2 separate regions of the Homo sapiens genome follow, and region 1 is linked to region 2. The links come from fine-mapping of genetic effects on gene expression. A gene starts in region 2. The other region holds a variant in brackets. All regions are shown on one strand. Distances are between the middles of the regions.

Evidence for each region. PIP is the estimated chance that this variant, and not a neighbour inherited with it, causes the effect.
Region 1: its variant is fine-mapped to the expression of ACSF3 in whole blood (TOPMed, PIP above 0.99).

Annotation. Positions count from the first base shown.
Region 1 is chr16:89,114,908-89,123,233 of GRCh38, forward strand. ACSF3 (acyl-CoA synthetase family member 3) reads left to right here. Exons shown (of 11, transcript NM_001243279.3): 7 at 5,894-6,006. Among named protein-coding and RNA genes, the nearest start is that of ACSF3, 25 kb to the left of the region's middle. RefSeq lists enhancers at 1-259, 3,614-3,908 and a silencer at 3,614-3,908. The variant C/T (reference allele first, on the strand shown) is at 3,860.
Region 2 is chr16:89,089,691-89,098,016 of GRCh38, forward strand. It overlaps ACSF3 (acyl-CoA synthetase family member 3), which reads left to right and starts at 4,162. Exons shown (of 11, transcript NM_001243279.3): 1 at 4,162-4,306. RefSeq lists a silencer at 3,926-4,335 and enhancers at 4,756-4,945, 6,165-6,334.

The DNA of each region.
Region 1 (8,326 bases), 25 kb after region 2:
GGGTGTGGTGGGCAGGGTGGGATGAGTCAAGCACCTGTCTTCCTTCTCTAGATGTGGGCTCCTGATACCGGGCCCCTCTTGTCCAGCCTTCCCTAACACATCCCATTCTGACTTTCATCTGACCCAACCATTTGAGCCCTGGGTCCTCCGCTGGGACTTCTGGGAACAGAGCCCACAGCTGGGGGGCCACCCTGCTGCTTTCTGCGCAGCCCTTCCAGTCTGTCTAGAGTAGAAGAGAGATCTCAGTGCAGACTTAAAGTGAGACCATCCCGCACATCTGTCTGTGCAGCTGCTTACCTGCAGACCCAGTAAAAATTCACCCCTCTGGCGTGCAGCTCTGTGTGTCTTAAGAAACATCATCACAGTCAAAATAGAGAAGGGTTCCTCGCCTCAGAAACTCCCTTCCTAGTGCTCAGCACCTCCTCCACCCCCGAGGCCTGGCCCCTTGTTCCTGTTTCTCTTCTTGTGGTTTTGCTTTTTCTGGGAGGCCACGTGGCTAAATCCTGCAGGACGTGGCCTCTGAGCCTGTCTGCTTCCGCCCGGCTTCCGCCCACAGTCAACTGCCTGTGCTGTGTGCGTCAGAGCCCGCGCCTTTCCCTGCTGAGTGGCATCCGTGGTGTGGGTGCGGCACCGCTTGTGACCCTGTTTTAAGCAATGACACGTGAGATGTTATCAACATTTGTGTGCAGGTTTCTGTGCGAACGTGGTTTTTTATTTCACCTGGGCAGATACCTAGGAGAGAGATTGCTGTGTTGTCTGAAGCTTTCAAGCTGTTCTCCAGAGCGGCTACACCATCCCCTTCCCCCTGCAATGGGTGGGAGGTCACGAGCACCTGCTGCTCCAGCGGGCGGTGGTGGTGTCTCGTTGAGTTCATGATTCTCTCATGATGGGTGGCGTTGAGCACCTCTTCCTGTTCGTGTCATTCCGTTTTCAACTGGGGCCTTTGTTTTCTTGAGTTTTGAGAGCTTTTAAAATTCGGGACCCAAGTGTCAGCTGTGCGATTTTAAATATCATCTCCCAGCTTGTGGTTTGTCTTCCCATTCACCTAACAGCGTCTTTAAAATCAGGAGTTTTAGGTTTTGGCCCGGTTTATCAATTTGTTTTGTGAATTGTCTGATGTCATATCTAATAAATCCTTGCGTAGCCCAAAGTCACAGAGAATAGTTTCAGCTCTTACGTTTGGGACCATGATCCATTTTGAGTTAATGTTTGTACATAGTGCGAGATACGGACCACAGTTCTTTTTTAGTGTGTGAATGTCTAACTTTTTAGCACTGTTCGTTGAAAAGACTCCCTTCTCCATCGAACAGCCCTTTGGATCTTTGTTGAAAGTCCGTCGACTCCTGAGGGGTCGGCTCCTGGGCTCTGCTCTGTCCCATTGCTTTCCGTGTGCCCTTTGGCTCATTCCATGCCTGCTTGGTTCCTGGGACTCTAGGGTAAGCGTGGACATGGGGGTTCAGGCCCAGGCAGGGACCAGCTGGTGCCAGGCAGCGATACGGTGCTGGGGCCTGCAAGGTGAGTGTGAGGGCTGGCTGGCTGCTGGGCTGGGAGGAGGAGAGACTGTAGGCTCACGCCCCTTTGCTGGGCCTGGGGAGCCATGGGGGCTGTTAAGTGTATTCTGAGTGTAAAGTCTCGGTTTGGCTGGGGCATCCTGAGCAGAATGACAGGGCCATGGCAGCGAGATCCTCAGCTGCCGTGCAGAGCTGCCAGTGGGGTGGCCGCACAGAGTGCAGTGCCTGCTGCAACAGTGCCCAGGGCAGTGGGCGGGTGGGGGCATGTTGTGAAAAGAAGTCAGTGTGAGTGATGAGAAATACATCCTAGTCTCAGACCCCAGGAAACCGCCGTCAGTGCTGGTGGCCCCTGCCCTGGGCCGGCTCCCGCGTTAGTCTCAGACCCCAGGAAACCTCCACCTCCGTCAGTGCTAGCGGCCCCTGCTCTGGGCTGACTCGCGCATCTCCACGATGGCTGCGGCACCAGCTGTTTCTTCGGTGGCTAAAGCTCTCTGGTGGAAATAAGATGGGGACCTTGAAATCAAATGTGACTGGTCTGTTGAGTCTCTGTCCTTATCGTTGTCCTTCTTAGTAGGATGTGCTGGTTTTGTCCAGTGCCACCGGCCACAGTCACCACGTAATATGGACGGAATGAGCAAAGCCCGGCTCGCTGAGGCTGCAGGCTGCAGGCAAGTGAGGACTGAAAGGGTAACGGGCTCTGGGCTTTGTCCTCTCTTTGTTCCGGACATGTGAGCAGGACAAGTTCTGTGTATTCAGAATCTGTCTGCACAGTTTGTAGTTCATGATGACTGTTCATCCACAGCATTGCTTTGTGGGCGTCCTCTCTTTTGATCTTCTCGAAACAGCCCCTGCGATGGGGTCATATTTTGCACTCACATACAAGAACCCATGAGCCTGCCCACGGTCACGCGGCTGGTGAGTGATGCACTTCCCAGGAGCACGGTGACCTCTTCAATGGCCCTCACTAGAGAAGATGGACAGTGCCCCCCTAGCCTTTTTTACTGGAACAGATACAAGGCTGAGAAGCTGAAATCAGGAGCAGCCCAGGGACCACTGTCTACACCGAGGGAGTCATGAGCAGCCCAGGGACCACTGTCTACACCCAGGGAGTCAGGAGCAGCCCGGGGACTGCTGTCTACACCGAGGATGTCAGGAGCAGCCCAGGGACCACTGTCTACACTGAGAGCGTCAGGAGCAGCCCAGGGACCGCCGTCCACACCAAGAGCGCCAAGGAGCAGCCCAGGGACCGCCGTCCACACCGAGGGCGCCAAGGAGCAGATAGTAGCCCAGAGACCCAGGGGAGGCTCAGCTTCCCCACGCTGGAATCAGAACTCCTAGGCGAACAGGAAGGAGCCCCAGACAGATGGCACAGGGAGAGGAGTCCCCGGCTGAGGAGGGGGATCCAGAGACCCTGAAGCTTCAGGGTTATTGGGCAAGAAACCTGAGTGCACCAATCCCCGAGTCTTCAGCTACCGACGGCAGGTTCCCTCGGGTGCCGGGGATGCTCCCTCTTCTCTAAGGCAGAGCCCACAGTAGGTTCCCTCAGGCGCCAAGGACATTCCCTCTTCTCTAAGGCAGAGCCCACAGCAGGTTCCCTCAGGCGCCAGGGACGTTCCCTCTTCTCTAAGGCAGAGCCCACGGCAGGTTCCCTCGGGCGCCGGGGACGCTCTCTCTTCTCTAAGGCAGAGCCCACGGCAGATTCCCTCGGGCGCCGGGGACGCTCTCTCTTCTCTAAGGCAGAGCCTGACGGCAGGTTCCCTCGGGCGCCAGGGATGTTCCCTCTTCTCTAAGGCAGAGCATACGGCAGTTTCCCTGGGGCGCCGGGGACGCTCCCTCTTCTCTAAGGCAGAATCAAATATCTGTGATTTTATCCTTGCCTTTAAATCACCAGCAGTGTGAGTTCTTTGGTTTGGAAAAAAGTAAGTAAAGTCACCTCAGCATTAAATCCAATATGCCCCACAAAAACTCCAAAATGCAGCCTCCTGAGCCATGTTTCTAGAGGGCACGGTGGAGGAGAGCTTTCCTCACTCTCAGGCTCTAACCCCCACCCTGGTGGCCATGGCCTTGACCCTTGGGTCGGCTCCAGCCACAGGCTCTGAGCTCATGCTTGGCCTCGCTGCTCAGTGCACTGTCCGTGCTCGGAAGAGAGAGAAGCTGGGTGGAGGGTGAGCTCTGTCGTGTGTTATGGTTACAGGCCTGCTCCGTGCGGTTCCTGTGGAGGGAGATGAATAATTCATGGCCGACCACTGCTGGGCCTCGTCACACTCTAATTGGAGGTTGAGCTCAGAGGTGCTCACGGCTCCTGGGCCACTCTGTGGCATTGACAGGGAGCTCCAGGGCCTCATTGG[C/T]GGTTTCCGTTCCCTGGGTCCCAGTCCCCAGTCAGAGTTATCAGGGAGGGGCTGGCTGACAGCGATTTTAGAGGTGGGCTGTGGCAGGAAGGCAGTGCCCCCCACCTGCCTGCAGCTGCGCTCCCATCTACATTGGCCTTTGCGGGGCCAGCCTCTGTCCACTCTCTTGAGCTCTCATGTCCACACTGTCACATGCCCGGGGCACAGCGAGCGGCACCTGGAGTGTGGGGACCCCTCCCTCGAGCTCTCACGGGTGGCACCTGGAGTGTGGGGGCCCCTGCCTCAAGCTTTCATGGGTGGCACCTGGAGTGTGGGGGCCCCTCCCTGAAGCTCTCACGGGCGGCACCTGGAGTGTGGGGGCCACTCCTTGAGCTCTCATGGACAATACCACTGCTTGGCTGCTGCAGAATCCAGACACCATCCCAGAGCCTCTTCAGCCTCTGCAGATGGTGTGGGACGGCCACACGGCCTCCCCACCTGCGGCCCCCGCCCCTACCCCAGCCGTGCCGTGTCCTTGCGCTGCGTCCCCGCCCCAGTAGAGGCATCACCAGGAAGAGGCGAAAGGCCGCCTGTGATGGTCCTCTTCTTATGAAACGCCCAGAACAGAAAAACCACGGACGCGGACAGCAGACCTGGTGCCAGGTCTGGGGAGGGAGGGTGTGGCGGTCGTGGGCTGTGCGGGAGTTCTGACTAGGGGAAGTGGGGGGCTGTGCAATGTGTGTGCGGAACACCGCCGTGCCGCGCACTGAAATGGGAAGTCATGTGTTATGCGGGTTTCACCCCCATTTAAAAATCTTCAGAAGCAAAACATAAAGGAGGAGAAAGGATGGAAGAAAGGGGGCTGAAGCTGGCCCCGCCACACCCCCCATAGTGGTGACACGGGTTTCTGACCAGAGTGGAGGTTCGGGGCGTCTGCATACCTGGAACCACAGAGAACTCCCGAGGTGACACTCCGCACACCACACTAGCCCGGCTTCGCCTGCAGGACCCCAGGTGTGGACAGGCCCAGCAGGATCAGCAAGACCGAGCCGGGCACCGACAGCCCCTCACCAAGCGTCTGGAGGCCGGGACGCCCCATGGATTGCAGAGTTCACTGCACTGACCCTCGATGCTGACCCTTGAAGTGCCGGAAATCTCAGCGTGGACTCAGACATGATAAGCGTTCAGGCACTCCCCTGACGCAGGCCAGGGCAAAGGCCTCACGCCCCGGGATAGACAGGAAGTCCCACGTCTGCTCTGCCCCTAGGTCATGCCCGTGCTGACGCCACATCGCCAGGGCCGCACTCCATGAGCAGCCTCTGCCGTCCCACCAGCAACCTAAACCACAGGCAGAGCGAGGCTGCGGCAGCCCTGCGTGTGCCGGCGGGACACGTCTCGCCACCTGGGCTCTGCCCCCACCCCGGCCAGTGTAAGATATGATTTTAGCCACGTTGAGACTGTGCAGGTGGGATGGATACACTGAGCAAATCATGGGTGTCTAATAAATGAGCCAGTACAAAGTGTGGTCCACCTGCCATGCAGAGTTCAGGACAGCCCCTCCTGGGGACATAGGGCAGATCCTGCCTTAGCCCGTCGTGTGCCGGGCACACACAGGTCCCCTCATCGTGGACAGCCCCGGGGCCATCAGGGCAAGGCGCCAGCCCTCCCTGGCCAGCAAGTGTGTAAAAGTGGGAATGACACCAGAATCTGTGGGCAGCTGTGAGGCTTTGGGAAGTAACTGGGAAAGTGATGTATGAGGGGCCCAGGGCAGGCCAGGCCCAGCGTGCCACGTGAGTGCCTGCTGTGCCACATGGCCATCACTGTGGCATCGGCTGGGCCTGAGCACACCGTGCTTGCCAGCCACGTATCGTGTGGCTTTTCACCTGCTGGTGCCTACACCATCTTCTCTCTGGGTCACAGGGCACGTCGCTCCCTCCACACAGACTCCCGCACGTGGCACACGGGAGCTCAGCGGGATCCGAGCTCAGTGTGTGCTTCTCTCCTCCAGGTTCCTCTCACTCCAGCCTCCCCTTCAGTGTTTCTCCTCTCCTGTAGGTTCCGTGGGGACCCCACTGCCTGGAGTACAGGTGCGCATTGTCTCAGAAAACCCACAGAGGGAAGCCTGCTCCTACACCATCCACGCAGAGGGAGACGAGAGGGGGACCAAGGTAAGCCACTCTGCTCTTGGCAGGTGGGCGGCCGTGTGTCCAGTCTAGGCCCCCCAGGGTGGTTACACTGGTGCATCTTTCCCCTGGAGGCAGACTCCCCTCCACGCAGGGGACCAGCCCCCTGGACACTGCAGGTGCTGGCTGGTGTTGCAAGGGCACTGGCTGGTGTTCTGGGCCCTGCCTGCTGCGTGTCCGTCTGTGCGTTCACAGAGCAGTGGGCAGAGGGAGCCCAGGGCGGAACGCCAAAGGGACTCACACCCGGGCACACAGCTCCTCCCAGGGGCCCTGTCCACGGGGACAGGCTGACGTGGGCCATGATGGCCTTGGCTAAGCGGAAGAGATAAAGAGCAGAGGCCGTTGTTGTTGATGGGAATCTGGTTAGAAATATGAACTGGCCTGACCCTGGCACCCGTCCTGAGGGGACGCTGACCACAGGCCCCCATAGTAGGTGTGGGGAGATTCACGGGGCCCTGCACGCGGAGGTGGGTGCCTGTGCAGTGCTCTGTGGCTGCCTCCTTGTCTTGTGCGTTATTCTAAAGCTGACAAGGGTGAACAAGAACAAAGGACATTGTCTCATTTCTGTGAGGATTTTAACATGAGAGTCTGCTCATCACACGTGAACTCATCACAGAGAAAGGTTTAGGGATTATGGGGAAATGGAATCTTGATTTAAAAGGAAATTATTTTCTCTGAAGCCAGTATCCACACCTGATACCACACATGATTGACTGTGTTGCCCTGAGGTTTTCAAAGATCGAGGGATCCTGAGTCTCATCTCTGTGCATTTCCTTCTCTGTGACACCATCTTGGCCCTCACGGGCACAACTGAGCTCCCTGTGCAGAGGCTGAGGGGCCGTGGGCCTTGCTCTCGTGAGTGAACAGCCACACGCCCTCCTTGTACCTTGGTTTCCACACATGACCACGTGAGGGTTGGAGCGATGGTCGTGGTTGGACGTTTTAGCTCCAGCAACCAAGTAGGATGTGGGTGGCTTTCAGTGTCATTAAATGACACTGAAAGGTGCAGTGGCCGCACCTTGTGTGGAGGGCCACACGGCGTGTCCCGCCTGGCCTGGGCCCCCCGCAGTGGGCTGTTATCCCCCGTGGCCCTGAAGTGGGTATTCTGTTTCCCCGTGGAAACCTCTCACCTGGGGCCACCTGCAGTGGCCGCACCTTGTGTGGAGGGCCGCACAGTGTGTCCCGCCTGGCCTGGGCCACCCGCAGTGGGCTGTTATCCCCCGTGGCCCTGAAGTGGGTATTCTGTTTCCCCATGGAAACCTCTCACCTGGGGCCACCTGCAGTGGCCGCACCTTGTGTGGAGGGCCGCACAGTGTGTCCCGCCTGGCCTGGGCCCCCCGCAGTGGGCTGTTATCCCTGTGGCCCCCACAGAGCCATGGGGCAACTTGCTGAAACCCACCTGGGTGGCTGCCCCTTGCTATACCCACCTCCCCTGCCCTCTGTAGGGCCCCAGCCCATGCTGTTGTCCTGACATGCCTCTCCTGGGATTCCTGCCTCTGCCCTGCTGGTACTAGGCTGCTGGCCACACCCCACATCTCAGGTTCCTGAATACACCGGCCCTTCCTGGCTCTCAAGTCTGTGCCCTGCAGTGCCCCTGCCCCCAACTCGAGGACCTCCCAGCTCAGCCAGTTCCAACCCTGTCTGCAGGGACGGGGCTCAGCCTGTGCCTGGGTTGGGGACACCATCTAGTCAGAAATGTCCCCAGCAGAGAGCAGAACGTGAGTGGCGTGTGGAGGAGTGAGACGCCCCGTGGCTGTGCAGCCCTCTCCAGGTGTCAGTCAGCTGACACTCCTGCCTCTGAGCACCTGCTCTGCCGGAAATGGCAGAAATGTTGCCAGAGAAAGGGGCGGAGCGGGGGTGGGGAGCATTTCTGTCTTAAATTAAAACAAAACTTAACTGCTTCACACCTGCATTGGCTGCCGCGCCACCTGATTGCTCCTGCCTGAGTTTCTTTAATTATTTGTGTCTGCTGGTTTCTTCCCTGAAGCAGTCTTGAAATAGAAGCAGCAGCCTCAGCTACCTGGGCACCCTGACAGTCAGAGACACCGCACAGGGGCCTCTGCGACAGGCATGCAGGCAGACCCTGCAAGGTGAAGCCGCACAGATGCTCTGGGGCTGCTTAAATCTCAGCGTACGGGGGGTTTGCATCTGCTGACAGCAGGCCCGGGAACATTTCCAGTTCAGCCAAGGAGTCGGTGCAGCAGGTGGAGTACAGCTGCCCTGCGGGGCCTGGCTCCACCAGGGGCCAAGACCCTTCGTGGGGAGGAGCACAGCCTGAGGGCCTCAGGGTTTGTGCCCTCCGACA
Region 2 (8,326 bases):
GGGATCCCAGTGCACAGATAACTTCGTGTGCTGATTTTTAAGTTTGAGGTTCTCATTCAACATTAGACCGTCATACACAATTCCCACGTTTCTATTTGGCGTCATGATTAATGGCTGCAGAGCCGCTCTTATTTGGCCATCTCCTGATTCACTAAAGTCTGTGCTGGGATATCCAGGCTGTTTCCTGATTTGTGGCTGCTGTAAACCACCCTGGCACAAACATCATTGAGGATCCAGCTTTGCAGATCATTTGTTCTTTATGAAGGAGTTGGTCTGGTGTTGCATGCAGAAAAGTTTGGTTTTCAGCAGAGGGGGGTGTCATTTGTTCATTGAATCTCACAGCGATGCAAAGAGAGGCATGTCTGGGGGCAGGGGTGGGGGTAAAGGATGCCAAATTCTGGTTTCAAATCCCAGCTCGGCCGCTTTCTAGGTACGTAAGCATGGACAAGTGACATCAATTCCCCGAGCCTCAGTTTCCTCATTCGTAAAACGGCACAATGCAATCCTTTGCCCGAGAGTCATTGTCACTGCCCTCAGAGCCCAGCTCCATGCACCGCAGAGAGGGGCCCTGGCACTCGTGTCTGAAGTCCTGGCCGTGTGCTCCTGCAGCACTCTTGTGCTTATCACCACACGGCACGTATTTCTCCTCCCACCTGCACCCTCGTGCTGGGAACGTGCCTGAGGGCACATTTGCACCTGCACAGACACTCCTGCCAGCGAGTCTCCTGAAAGGCAGGAGGCCAGGAGAGGCCGTGGGGGTGTTCCGTGTCTGGTATTAGACAGTAGCAGCTGGTGGCACGATGATAAGGCTTGGCCCATGGAGAGTCATCTTGTTCCTCTCCATGACATGCACCTGCTGGAAGGCGACTTCCCGGAATCCTCTTGGTTTATTTAGGGAACAGGGGCAAGAATCCAGCTGAAAGTGGCCGAGTTCACGTGGTCACCTGGAGTGTTTCCTTTCCTCTTCCTCTAAAAACTATTTCATAGTGTAGTTTAACTTTTATACTTATCAGTTGTACGTCCACAAAGTTTAAAGAACTACCCTCCCCTTCCTGCTCACCAGAGGTGAACCTTTGTTCTGATTCTCTTGGTGTTTACCCCCTGGAGGTTCCTGTGGTCTCCTGCCAGGCCTGCCCAGGCCACACCACACACCTTCCACCCCGGGTCCCTCCCGTCGTCTGCGATAAACTCGTTCGATCAGCGGCAGTTTTGCATGCTGATGGTTACACTGTAGATGTTGAAATGATCGTAGTTTAGTAAATGCTATGGACAGCGGAGCCTCCTACAGCAACATGATCACGTGCCCTTTGCTGGCAAACACATCTTCCTGTGTTCCCAGTGTTTAATCTCTGCCTTATTTTTCTTGATTAGTTTTCTATGTATTGATCATCTATCCCTAAACTTTGCTTGCATTGTTCAAGTCTCCTCTCAACATGGTAAACACACAGGACACTCTGTCCACCATCTTCCCGCGGGGGGATTGCCCCTGCCTGCCAGGCCAGGACTCCCGGGAGTCACAGGAAACAAGGCCAGAGGGGAGGAGGGCGGGGCTCGGGGACCTGGTGGCCACAACAGGGCTTGGGCAGGACCCCCTGTGGGTTCTGAGCAGGATCCCACTCAGGTTTTAATGGGGCTACTCCAGCCACTGTTGGGTTCTTCATGAATCCAGTGAGGACTCCTTTAGGAAACAAGGCTTTCCTGGTCTGGGTGGTTACAGCAGCGCTGGTGGGACAGTCTCTGACAGAATTTGCAGGAGAAACCAGTAGGACTCAATGTGGTGTGGGAGGGAAGCAGGGAGCCATAGACTGAACCCCAGGATCGAGGGTGAGATGCAAAGTGTGAGGGTGGGGGCGCTGCTGCGGGGGAGACCTGAGCTCCTCTGGGGCCACATCGGGGTCTGATGTCTCTTGGATGTCCCAGTGAGATGCCAGGTGGGCACTTAGGACCCTCCCTGTCCACATGTTCTAAACTACATTGACGTCGTCTGCCTGGTTGGTGCGGCCACTTTCACTCCCTGCGCTGGATGTTCTGCAGCCCTTCGTCTGCTAATGTCCACGAGTTTACCTGACAGCTGACTTCTCTCTGTTTTCTCTGCCCTCCCTTCCTGAAACTACCGTATTTAGCATATTGGATGCCTGCCTGAGCCCACTGATTTTTTTATCTTTCCTCTCCTGTTTTTCATCTCTCGGTCTTTCTGTTCTATTTCTAGGAGACGTCCTTTAGCCCTTCCCTTAGGGTTTTTACTCAGGCTGTTGTATTCTGACCCCTCCAGCCCCCCTTTATGTTACTGGAACGCTCTTTCTCGGGGCATCTCGCTCTGGACTCATGGGGGCTGTCGCTTCCCTTGTCTCCCTGAGGGTATTAACAGGGGGTGGTTTTGGGGGTCTCTTCACTCTGCACAGCCTGGCTGCCTGCAGTTGTTCTGCTGGTTGTTTCAGCCCACGTCTCTCTGGCTAGAGGCTGTCCTCCAATGTCTGCTAATCCCTGACTGCTCCTGCTTCCCACCTGCCACTATGATGCTGACCAGAGCCGAGGCACAGATGGGACCCCTGCTCATAGGATGACTGGGCCATTTCTCGGAGACTGCACCCTCCCCCCACTGCCACCCTCACAGAGCCATGGCCAAGGACCACGGGAGCTGTCACCCTGTCCCAAGTCCTGTCTCTAGGTGGGTGACGCAGCCTGAGCTCTTCAACTTCCCAGGGATAGAAATTTGCGCACACACGTCCTGGGGCTGAATCCTGATGTTAGACGCCCTCCTTACTCTTCCTACTGCCCTCGTCGGAAACACCATTCAGCCTGCTGAGTCCTGGAAGCAGACAGAATTCTGACACCAGATCAAGCCTGTCCCAGTGGCAGAGGGTTGGACTTGCTTTTTCTGCATGATACCTAGCAGGGTGGCAACCAGAGGCACTAGAAGTTTGGGTTTGTTCTCCCACGCTCTGTGTTACAAACTTCCCCCAGATCCAGCTCCTTCCTCCCAGGAAAACCATCCTCGGGCTCCTGAAGTGCCCTTTCCTGAGCTTTCCAAGGACACAACTGCTGCCCCAGCAATCATCACAAGAGAGGAAGATGGGCATGGAAAATAATACACTTACAAAAAAACTGTGCAAGGTTCTGCAGATAATTTTTTTTTTTTTTTGAGACAGTCTCACTCTGCTGCCCAGGCTGGAGTGCAGTGGCGCAATCTCAGCTCACTGCAGTCGCCACCTCCCAGGCTCAAGAGATTCTCCTGCCTCAGCCTCCCGAGTAACTGGGATTACAGGCACCTGCCACCACTCCCGGCTAATTTTTGTATTTTTAGGAGAGACAGGGTTTCACCATGTTGGTCAGGCTGGTCTTGAACTCCTGACCTCGTGATCTGCCTACCTCGGCCTCCCAAAGTGCTGGGATTACAGGCGTGAGCCATCACACCAGGACGGTTCTGCAGATAATTTGTACTACTGTTTGCCAGTACATGTCTTTGTGTTATTAGTATTCATTTTAGGGGAAAAACCCTCAAATTTCAGCCAACTGGACTTTGTGTTTGGCTTTAAATGTTTTCCGCCACTGTCCATCCAACAGTCTCGCTTCATATTCGTATCCTGGTTCCCAAGTCCCTTCGAGGAGAGATTCTCAAATGCGGTCCGTTTAAAATCACCCAAGAAATACAAAAATTAGACAGGCATGATGGCGGGCGCCTGTAGTCCCAGCTAATTGGGAGGTTGAGGCAGGAGAATCACTTGAACCCGGGAGGCGGAGGTTGCGGTGAGCCGAGATCACACCACTGCACTCTAGTCTGGGCGACAGAGCGAGACTCCATCTCAAAATAATAATAATAATAAGAAAAAGTAACAACAATAATAATAATAATAAAATCACCCAGGAGCTCAGCGTGCAGACCCCCAGCCGCAAAGCCCAGAGAGCCCCTTTTGGGAGGACGGGGCGAGGCCCAGCAATCCGCGTTGGGAGTGGTCCCGCGCGCCGTTCTGATCTGGGCAGCCCTGGGCTAGCGGAGACCACGGCGCCTTGCCTCGGCCACGGCTCACGAGACGCCCGCGGCCCCGACCCCGCCACGACGGGACGGGCGGGACAGGGGAACACGCGCGCCCGGAACCCGCCGCCACGGCGCCGCGCCGGGGGGACGCGCTTGGGCGACGGACGCGCCGCGCCGGGGAAGCTGTTGGGCGCCGGAACTGGTCCGGCCCGACTCACGACCCCGCGGGACCCGGCCGGAACCCGGCCCGACCCCGGCGCGCGCGCGGCGGAGGACGAGGAAGAGTTGTGGCGAGGCAGATCCTGCCCCGTGGCCGCGGCCGTCTCGTAGGTGCGGGCGGCGGGGCCCACGGGACCGCGGCGGGGTCGGCCGGGCGCAGAGCTCTCGGGGGCGCGGGCTCCGGCGCCCGCCCCTGGGTCGCAGCTGGGCTTGAGCCGTGGCCCGTGGCGCGGTCGCTTCCCCGCGAGCCGCCTGGGGCCGGGCGTCGGCCTTCCCGGGACGCCGAGCCTCTCGTGTCCGGTGGGGAGCGGGGCCCCCGCGCGGGGTGCGGGGAGAGAAGCTGTGCGGACGCCGGGCCCGGTGATACCGTCGAGCCGGCGGGGTCCGTGTTCAGGCATCCTCAGAACGAATCGTCTTTGGTTGTGTTTGGAATAAATTCACTTCCATTTCTCATTGGGCTTCAGAAGTCACCCTTGAAGTACTCCCCGTTTTAGTTGTTTGCTGCGTGCACCTTGCTGGGCGCGTGGGGCACAGGTTCACAGCCGGCCTAGCCCCTGAGGGCATGTAGATCTATGAGCAAGCAATGGAGACGTGCGGCCGGCCGTGAAGTATTTGGAAGGTACTGCAGGCAGCCCATTCCCTGGAGAGAGGGAAGGTTTAAAGGGGTGAGGCCCGGTGCAGTCAGGAGTTGATGTTGCTGTCCTGAGTCTAAATTCCACCAGGCAGGCCAGGTGCAGTGGCTCATGCCTGTAATCCCAGCGCTTTGGGCAGCAGAGGCAGGAGGATCACTTGTGGCCAGGAGTTCAAAGCCAGCCTGGGCAACATGGTGAGACCCCTATCTCTACAAAAAAATGTAAAAATTAGCTGGGTGTGGTGGCGTACACCTGCACTTCCAGCTACTGGTTAGGCTGAGGCACGAGGATTTCTTGAGCCCAGGAATCGGAGGCTGCAGTGAGCCATGACAGCACCATTGCACTCCAGCCTAGGTGGCAGAGCAAGACACTGTCTCAATAAATAATAAAACTGAAAAAGAAGAGGTGATATTTGAACTGGGCTTGGAAGAATGATTAGGAATTTGCTAGAAAGGGAACACGTTTAGAGATAGGAACACGAATTGTGTCTGGGGCATAGTTGTTGCTTTCCCATCCTGGGAGGACAGACATTCGTGTTAGGGCCCAAGGCTGAGACCTTGTTGAGGAGGGGGTTCACATGGTGGACCCAGGAGCACGGGTGTTACTACCGGTGGACCCTGGGGACCCTGCGAGCTTTGTAGCGTGAAGCCTGGCTCAGGCTGGTGTCCTCTCCGCAGGTGTTGGAGGACATAAGATGAGGCTTCCCTTGCTCTTGCTCCTTTGGCTCTGAACCATCTCCTCAAGGCAGACAGAAATGGCGGATTAAACTGTGGGCTTGGGATAGTTGTAAGTGTCACCTTTCCAGATGGCATTTTTAAAATAGTATTTTTCTTCCTAAAATGGATATGGGTTTCAAGTGTATTTTTCCTTTTTGGTTTTTTTTATTTGAATGTACTGCTCATGAATGCAATGTGAATGTCTGTTACTTAAAAATGTAATTTTGAAAATAACCCTCCAAACCACAGGTGTGATGCTGAAACGCATCCTGCCCCGCAGGCCGAGCACAGCCCTCCTCTGCCCCACGCTCTCATCGGGGCAGCCGACAGGAGGAAGTGCCGGCATCCACTTCAAACACAAGGTCTGGGGGGGCGGGGGTGTCAGGTGTGGTGGTGAACAGGTCAGGTGTCGTTTTATTCATGTTGAAAGCAGCCCTTCATTTGAATGCGAGTGTCATTCTCATCTAGTAATTTTTGTTGCGAGGCTCCATGGGGAGCACCCTGCTGAGCACGGCGCGGCCGTTTGTCTTCTGCCTGGCCTGTGCCGGGCCATTCGTACATTCTCACGTGAAGCCTGTGAGGCAGGTCTTGTTACTGTGCCATCTTAGCGGTGGGAAGTGAAGGGCTAGGCCAGTGAGGAAATGAGGACAAAGGCAGCAGCCGTTCAAGTCGAAGCCTGTGGTGACTAACTCTGCCATTAACCAGCACTCCAGTTAGGAGGGAAAAGATGCATCCCGCTGCGCTGCATGTGTGTTCCCGAGAAGCCCCAGTGCCTTAGTGGTCTGATCTCAGAACCTGATGGCTAGAACACCGAGAGGTCCTGCCTCCCTCCCCGAGGGCTGGAGAGCCACTGTTTTCAGTGGTTCCAGTACGCCTTCACCAAGGAGGCTGTCCTGGCTCAGGCACCTTTCTCAGCTTCTGACTAGAGTCCTTGCCCAGCCACGTGGTGACGCCGCTGACCTCGGGTTATCAGGGTGCTGCGTAGCAGGGGTATGAAGCTGGCTGAGGGTGGAAGCCCCTGACTGAACTGCATTTGTCTGGTGGGCAGTGTCCCTCCACACTGTGCTCCTGGTGGTGATGGGGAGCCCCACGGTAGAAGGGGTCCCAGTGGTTGAAAGGTGAGGTTCTCTCTGAGGAAGCTGGGGTGCCTCTGGACCGGGAGGTGTGCAGGAAGACCGCGCACAGCCATCTGCCCTGAGTAGGCTCTGTCTGCGTGTTCGAGGCAGGGCTCTGATCCGATGACCGTGAAGATTCAACCTCTGTGCTGAAGAGAACTGATGACTGGGCACTTCATTGTCCCAAGCCTGAGGGACTGAAAAGCTGGTTTGATGGGGCTGGTTCCGTTTTCCACATGCTTGGTGGGAGAATAAATCAGCACCTCGTTGGAGGGGACTTTGTCAGTATTTCTCAAAATTAAAGATGACCCAGCAATGTGACTTCCCGGCATCTGTGCCCTAGACACCCCGAGTGAACACAGCTGTAGGTGCCAGGACTCCCCCCTTCCCTCGGCCGACTCTGGCTAGGCCAGGCCCTTCTCACCCTCCATAGGAAGCCTCCCCACCAGGCCCCCGTCCGTTCCTCCTGCCCGTGGCCTCTCCTCATAGCGCGTGGGCTCTCTGGGAGCTGGGACCATGTCACACGGGGCCAGTCACATCTGTCACCTCCCAGGGGCTGGTGGCAGGAGTGCCCACCCACAGGCAGCGCTCTGGATTCCGCGCAGGAGAACAGCAGTTTCTTCTCAGCCTGCACTTTGAGTTTGCCCAGCCCAGCTGTGCACGTCAGCATCACCAGCTCTGCTGAGCTCTGGGTTTTGTGGGGAATCCACTCTTATTCTTCCGTGGCTTCGCCCTGCGGGGTGACTCAGGAATTTGTAGAAATGCCAAAAGGGGGGCTGTGCTCTGGTAGTGTGTGCTGTGTGTGCTCAGCGTGTGGTTAGCGTGTGCTCAGCGTGTGGTTACCGTGTGCACAGCACGAGCTTGAACTCGCTTTGTCAGAACTCGGTTCTTTGTGGTCTGCAGAAACCTTTTCTGAGCAGCAGCTTTAGTTAGAGGGAAGCCGTCATCCCCCTTTTATGTGCTTCTGTCATATTGAGAAACAGCTACACACAATGACAGGCACCTTCTATATTGAGTGAGTGTCGCCGGCCGTCCTAGTGCTCCGCTCCTTAGCACCCCAGAAAGCACCGTCCCCTGCTCCGAGCACCCAAGGCACTCCCTGTGGCTCTCAGCAGCGGAAGTCTGGCCTCGGGGCCGTAACCCAGAGCACCCAGTGCCCAGTCGGTTTTCTGTGTGTGGATTCTCCTTGTTTCTGTGCCCTCACACCTGTAAAGCAGTGCAGGATCGGTTGGAAGTGAGGAAGGAAGCGTGGTGGGGCCGCCCTGGTTTGCTGCTTTCTGAAGCTGGCACAGCCCACGTGCCGATCTCGTGTCTTGTGTCTGGTGAAGCCCAGTTGTTTTCTTGCCATTCTCTGGGTTTCTCTATGGTAGCAGAGTCCAGGTGTGTGGGCGGACCAGCCACTGCCCTGCCTCTGAACAGCTGTGGAGGGCTTCTAGAACATGGGTGCCTCGCGTCAGGAGATGATGTGGCCTGCAGGACTGACCGTTTGGTAGGATTCAGAGAAGACTCACACAGGACGTCCAAGCAGCCCGCGGAGCTGTGCTGAGGTTCAGGGCCCTGCGTGGCTCGTTTTCCTCCTGCCTGGGCCAGAGGCAGGAGATCCCTCAGCTGGCTGGGACAGGGGACTTCATTAAGAGCCCCAGGCTACCTGGGAGGCGGAGCTTGCAG